Regions from separate parts of the Homo sapiens genome. Here region 1 is linked to region 2. Evidence: fine-mapped expression QTL. A gene starts in region 2. The other region holds a variant in brackets. All regions are shown on one strand. Distances are between the middles of the regions.

Region 1 (2,922 bases), 180 kb after region 2:
AACTCCAATTGGTAGGACCAGTGAAAATGCCAACTGTGTGTCAGTCACAACTAGACAGGTAAGATGCAACTTCTCAGAGAGTAAGGTTATCGATAACTCTACATTCAAAAGTAAAACACACTGATTTTATCTGAGAAAGGAACAGATTGGATATGTAACTACCAGGACAAGGTAAATAAAATAAAAAATAAAGAAATTAGTCCTAGATGGTTTTCCTACACCATTTGGATCAGGAGAATTTTGATCTTAGTTACATGATCTTAATTTGGCCAATTTCTTTCCTTTCTTATAATACTAGCTGATGTTTATTAAACAGCTACTATGTGCCAGGTATGTTGCTTGGCACAGCATAAGCATTCTAGCCATTAATCTACATAATAACTCTATGAAGTAGTTACTATTTTTTAAACCATTTTAAGGATGAGGAAACAGAATCAGGTGGGTGAACTGATTCTTCTATAGCTCCATAGCTAGTAAGTGACAGAGGCCATTAATGACCTAGATGGGAGCTGGACTAAGGGATCTACCAGTTGGAAAGCTGGTAGATCAGTCTGTAATAGAAACTAAATATATAGCTTTCTGACTGGCCTTTATTTTGTCTTATTCTGTTTAAAAAAACACACTCTCCATCTTTACTTTCTCAATAGAAATTCACTCAGTCTTATTTCTGACACCACCAGCTTCACTGAGGTCATTAATGATGTCCATGTTGTTAAATCTGATGGACACTTTGATGTCTTTATCTGATCTAACTCCTTAGGATTATTTGACACAGCCTACCAGTCTACCTTTTTTTAAACACTCAATTCCCTTGGCTTCCATGGTTCCATGTCTCTTGATTTTCTTCTTGCCATTCAGTGTGCCCTCTCCCATTTTAATGAGCCACAAATATTATTGGCCTGTGTGTTATTCCTAATCATTTCCAGAGCCAGAGTACTCAGCTTGTCCATATAGTAAAAGCTTTGATTTCTGTAGTAATTGAATTTGAACATAGTTTTTTGCTTAACTTGTGCTGGGAATTACTATCTCCATGAAACATAAAGAAATAAAATTTTGTGGATATAATTTTTTAATAGTCATAGAGCAAGTAAATGACAGAGCTATAATTCACGGTTTTAATTTTTCATGTCTAAT[G/C]TATCTATCTAGCTATCATGAATCTGTCTATATCTTTTCAGTGTTCATTGAATAGAACTTCTAGATATCAGAGTAAAAAGAAACATTTTATTGAAAAGTTGTAAAATTCATTGATGGAAATGATAACACATTAAGGTGTACATCACATTTTTATTTCGTAATCTCCTCTTCTCTTCTCTTCTCTTCTCTTCATAAGAAACTCATGGATGAGTGCCAGGACCAAAACTGGTATCTGATATCTGTGAATAGTTGAGTATTTGGACCAGACCCATGTCCTGAGACATATAAGTAGCTTCTTGTGTCTTATAAGTGTAGACCAGGCAAGTTTCACAGAGGTATTTACAATTAAGAGGGGATTTATCAAAAAGGATTGTAGTCCTGCATAGTTTTGGACTCATTTCTAAGTGCTATATCTGTGTTTTCATGTTTATTAATTTTTAAATCAATGCATAATACCTTAAGCTGTATAACCCACAGACACAAAATACCTCTTGGTTACAGAGGTATTTTGTATTTTTTTTTACTTTTTATTATTTATTTATTTATTTATTTATTTATTATTATTATTATACTTTAAGTTTTAGGGTACAGTGTGCAGGTTAGTTACATATGTATACATGTGCCATGTTGGTGTGCTGCACCCATTAACTCGTCATTTAGCATTAGGTATATCTCCTAATGCTATCCCTCCCCCCTCCCCCACCCCACAACAGTCCCCAGAGTGTGATGTTCCCCTTCCTGTATCCATGTGTTCTTATTGTTCAATTCCCATCTATGAGTGAGAACATGCGGTGTTTGGTTTTTTGTCCTTGCGATAGTTTACTGAGAATGATGATTTCCAATTTCATCCATGCCCCTACAAAGGACGTGAACTCATCATTTTTTATGGCTGCATAGTATTCCATGGTGTATATGTGCCACATTTTCTTAATCCAGTCTAGCATTATTGGACATTTGGGTTGGTTCCAAGTCTTTGCTATTGTGAATAGTGCCACAATAAACATACGTGTGCATGTGTCTTGATAGCAGCATGATTTATAGTCCTTTGGGTGTATACCCAGTAATGGGATGGCTGGGTCAAATGGTATTTCTAGTTCTAGATCCCTGAGGAATCGCCACACTGACTTCCACAAGGGTTGAACTAGTTTACAGTCCCACCAACAGTGTAAAAGTGTTCCTATTTCTCCACATCCTCTCCAGCACCTGTTGTTTCCTGACTTTTTAATGATTGCCATTCTAACTGGTGTGAGACGGTATCTCATTGTGGTTTTGATTTGCATTTCTCTGATGACCAGTGATGAAGAGCATTTTTTCATGTGTCTGTTGGCTGCATAAATGTCTTCTTTTGAGAAGTGTCTGTTCATATCCTTCACCCACTTTTTGATGGGGTTGTTTGTTTTTTTTCTTGTAAATTTGTTTGAGTTCTTTGTAGATTCTGGATATTAGCCCTTTGTCAGATGAGTAGATTGCAAAAATTTTCTCCCATCTGTAGGTTGCCTGTTCACTCTGATGTTAGTTTCTTTTGCTGTGCAGAAGCTCTTTAGTTGAATTAGATCCCATTTGTCAATTTTGGCTTTTGTTGCCATTGCTTTTGGTGTTTTAGACATGAAGTCCTTGCCCATGCCTATGTCCTGAATGGTAATGCCTAGGTTTTCTTCTAGGGTTTTTATGGTTTTAGGTCTAACGTTTAAGTCTTTAATCCATCTTGAATTAATTTTTGTATAAGGTGTAAGGAAGGGATCCAGTTTCAGCTTTCTACATATGGCTAGCCAGTTTTCCCAGCACCAT
Region 2 (2,922 bases):
ATATTTTATTAAAAGTAAAATATCCAGGCTCCCTAGAGTCTGGAGCCAAATTACCTAGGTTTGAATCTCAGCTCTGAAATTTATCTGCCATGTGATCCTGGTGAAAATTGCTTAACCTATCTGTGCCTCAGTTGCCTTATCCTTAAAGTAGAAATAATATCATCTACCTTAAGTGTTTGATATAAAACAAACACTTAGCCCAGTGTTTAGCATATAGTGCACATTTTATAAATGTTGGTTACTATTATTAAGGAAACTTGCTTCTTTTACTGACTCAAACAAACAGGTATTGTCTATCAACCTGTTGCCTTTTCTGAGTACTTTGTGTTGATTTCAGCTTAGCTTTAAGTGAGCTCATTCACTCTAATTGCTACAGTTATGATCTTCCTGTTACAGGACATTGGATCATGCTGTTCTTTCTGCCCAAAACTTTTTTTGTTTTCCCATTTGCCTGGCCAACTCCAATTTGTTCTTTAAACATAAGGGCATAAGGGCATGGACTATATCTGGGCTTTGTTTATCATTTTACACCCAGATCTTAGTACAGTGCCTGGCATACAGTAGGCACTCATTAATGTTTATTGCATGAATGAATACCAGCCAGACTAAATCTAGATTCTCATTGTACTTAGTTTTTCCTCTTTATGTTACATTCACACTCTGGATATGTCCTTTTGTTTACACACTGGTTCTAGAAATTTTTTAACAAATATTTATTAAATATATAGACATTTTAGACTCTGTGCTTGGAGAACAAATATGAAAAACACAAGTTTTCTGCTCTCAAGAAGCTACTTATTCATTAGAGGACAAAGACATGCAGAAAGAGAAATTATAATCTAGAGTAAGTGGTACTCTTGAGGCCTGTACGAGATCCATTGGGCATACTGGACCTAGGGAAAAAAAATATACAAACTTATCTGGGAAAGACAGGGAAGGCTTCACAGAGGAGGTGCTATCTAAATTGAGTCAAAAATAACGAGTAGCCGTTTTCCAAATAAACAAGTGCCGGGTAAGAGCATTCATGGCAGAAGGAATTCCAGGGCAAAGATGTGGAGGCTTTTTCTTCTTTTGTTGATCCTGACTTCTACAAACCAATTCCTTTATTGCTTTTTTGACATTAGATTAACACTTTTAATCTCGAATAAATATAATACTGCACAATTTCCCATTTTCAGTATATATGCATTTGATTTTTTTTGTTGTTCTTACTCTCATTTTTTAAATCTGCCTTGGATTTCCATTGCATATACTATTTCAGTATACTTTTTGGTCCTTCTTTGTAATATGTATCGTTCTTAAATTTTTACCTGCATAAGGTGTTCATTCCTAATGGGTATTCCCTTCTAGTGCTCACTGTATGTAGCACTGTATCTGGACCCTGGGTTCAAGATGCTCAGCTGAATCGATGGGAGTAATGAGCGGTATATGACTTCCATAAACTCAAGAAAATGGTGGAAAGGTAGTAGAATTTTACTTCTAGTAAACCTGGATAAACTACCATAAATAGAAGCGTAGTGGGAGGACTCGGGAGGAGCACTGAAATGGCAGGCAGGGGACCCAGGTTTTATAGCTTTATGGGCCTGTTTTTTCTCATCCCTGCACCTATAGCTTCAAGTATGTTCACTAAAGGCGATTGAATAGAGTGCCCCGGCCCAGTCCTTCCGAATGGGAGACTGACGCCCTAGCACCGGGCGAAGTCCCGGGCGCCAGAGGCACCCACCCTGCACGGCCGGAAGGAGTGGGGCGGGGCCTACAGGCTCTCCGCTGGGCCCGAGCGGGCTGGGGGAGGGGAGCGTGGGGCCGACAGTTTTGGGGGTGAAAAGGCAAAAGGCGGGTGAAAGGCTGCCTCCCGAGACTCTCCTTGCTTGGAATTCTGCCCACTCTGCGGAGTTAGCAGTCACGACCTCCAGCACAGGTGGGTTCCGTCCCGTGGGTCAGGGAAGGGGTGTCCCCATGGGTGCTACGGGTGGGTTTACCCAGGCGCTCGCTTTCAGGCCTGTCGCAGTGGGCGGCGGAGGCTCTCACCCGGGCTGCTGGGCCCAAGGGCGGTGGTACTCACCTTAACCCTGGCGGAGAGGAAGGCCACTCCTGCCTTGCCGCAGGGTTGTCGTCACGATCTGTGCCAGTTGCGCGACAGAGTCTGCCCGGAGATCAGCGTGAGGCCGGATGGGCCTAGCGCTCAGGAAGAGCTGGAAGAGCTGGAGCAAGCTCGCGTTGGGACTGACGCCCAGTGTACATTGTTTCAATCTCGGTCGGACTTTACAGCCCTGGATCTGTCACTGACTTGGTGTTTAGCTTTCAGCGAGTCCCTACCCTCTTCCTGCCTCACTTTGTTCGGCAGTAGAGTGGAAGGTGGAACTCAGCTGTCTGCAAGATCTTGCAGCACTTTCTTTCGTTCTCATATCCACTAATGTTCTCTGCCCAGATTTTACCCTTTGTCTGCCCCCTCTGGAGCAAGGCTCTGGGTAAGTAAGTTAGGCTAGGAAGTTTTCTTTCTCTTCCGAAAACAATGGAAAAGCCTTTAAATACTCCTGACTGCCCTGGAAACGACATTCAAACCATTAATTGAATGTCAACTCTGAAGAATGGGTTTGTGAATGCCATACTATTAAACGTTTTAACCAGATGATTGCCTAAAATGATGTGTGTTGAGTGGACATAGTACACTGCCTAGCAAAAGTCTCATGATAAATGAGTTGCGTGCTTTAACTCAGTCGCTGAAAGAAAAACTTGAGCTCTCATATTTAAGAAACACTTTCATAATCCACTCCCATACAGTAGTAGTCTTTTAGAGTTGCTTGTAGCTTGGTTTGCCCTTTCAGGACACACTGTAGTAAAAATTACATACAGTTTATTTTACATTAACTATAAAGACAAAGAAGGACTATAAACATTATGGATCAACATTTTGGTGTCAAC

Which allele goes with the higher level. Positions count from the first base shown, and alleles are read on the strand shown. Sizes are in standard deviations (SD) of each study's normalised expression.
With allele G in place of C in region 1, the expression in minor salivary gland of the gene that starts at base 1,758 in region 2 is higher (small effect, 0.28 SD a copy in GTEx).

What was found. PIP is the estimated chance that this variant, and not a neighbour inherited with it, causes the effect. A credible set is the group of variants that fine-mapping cannot tell apart.
Region 1: its variant is the best candidate, but not a certain one, in a credible set for the expression of TMLHE in minor salivary gland (GTEx, PIP 0.84).

Annotation. Positions count from the first base shown.
Region 1 is chrX:155,426,884-155,429,805 of GRCh38, reverse strand. No RefSeq gene overlaps it. Among named protein-coding and RNA genes, the nearest start is that of MIR1184-3, 29 kb to the left of the region's middle. The variant G/C (reference allele first, on the strand shown) is at 1,135.
Region 2 is chrX:155,611,788-155,614,709 of GRCh38, reverse strand. It overlaps TMLHE (trimethyllysine hydroxylase, epsilon), which reads left to right and starts at 1,758. Exons shown (of 8, transcript NM_018196.4): 1 at 1,758-1,918. It overlaps SPRY3 (sprouty RTK signaling antagonist 3), which reads right to left and starts at 2,124. Exons shown (of 3, transcript NM_001304990.2): 1 at 2,063-2,124.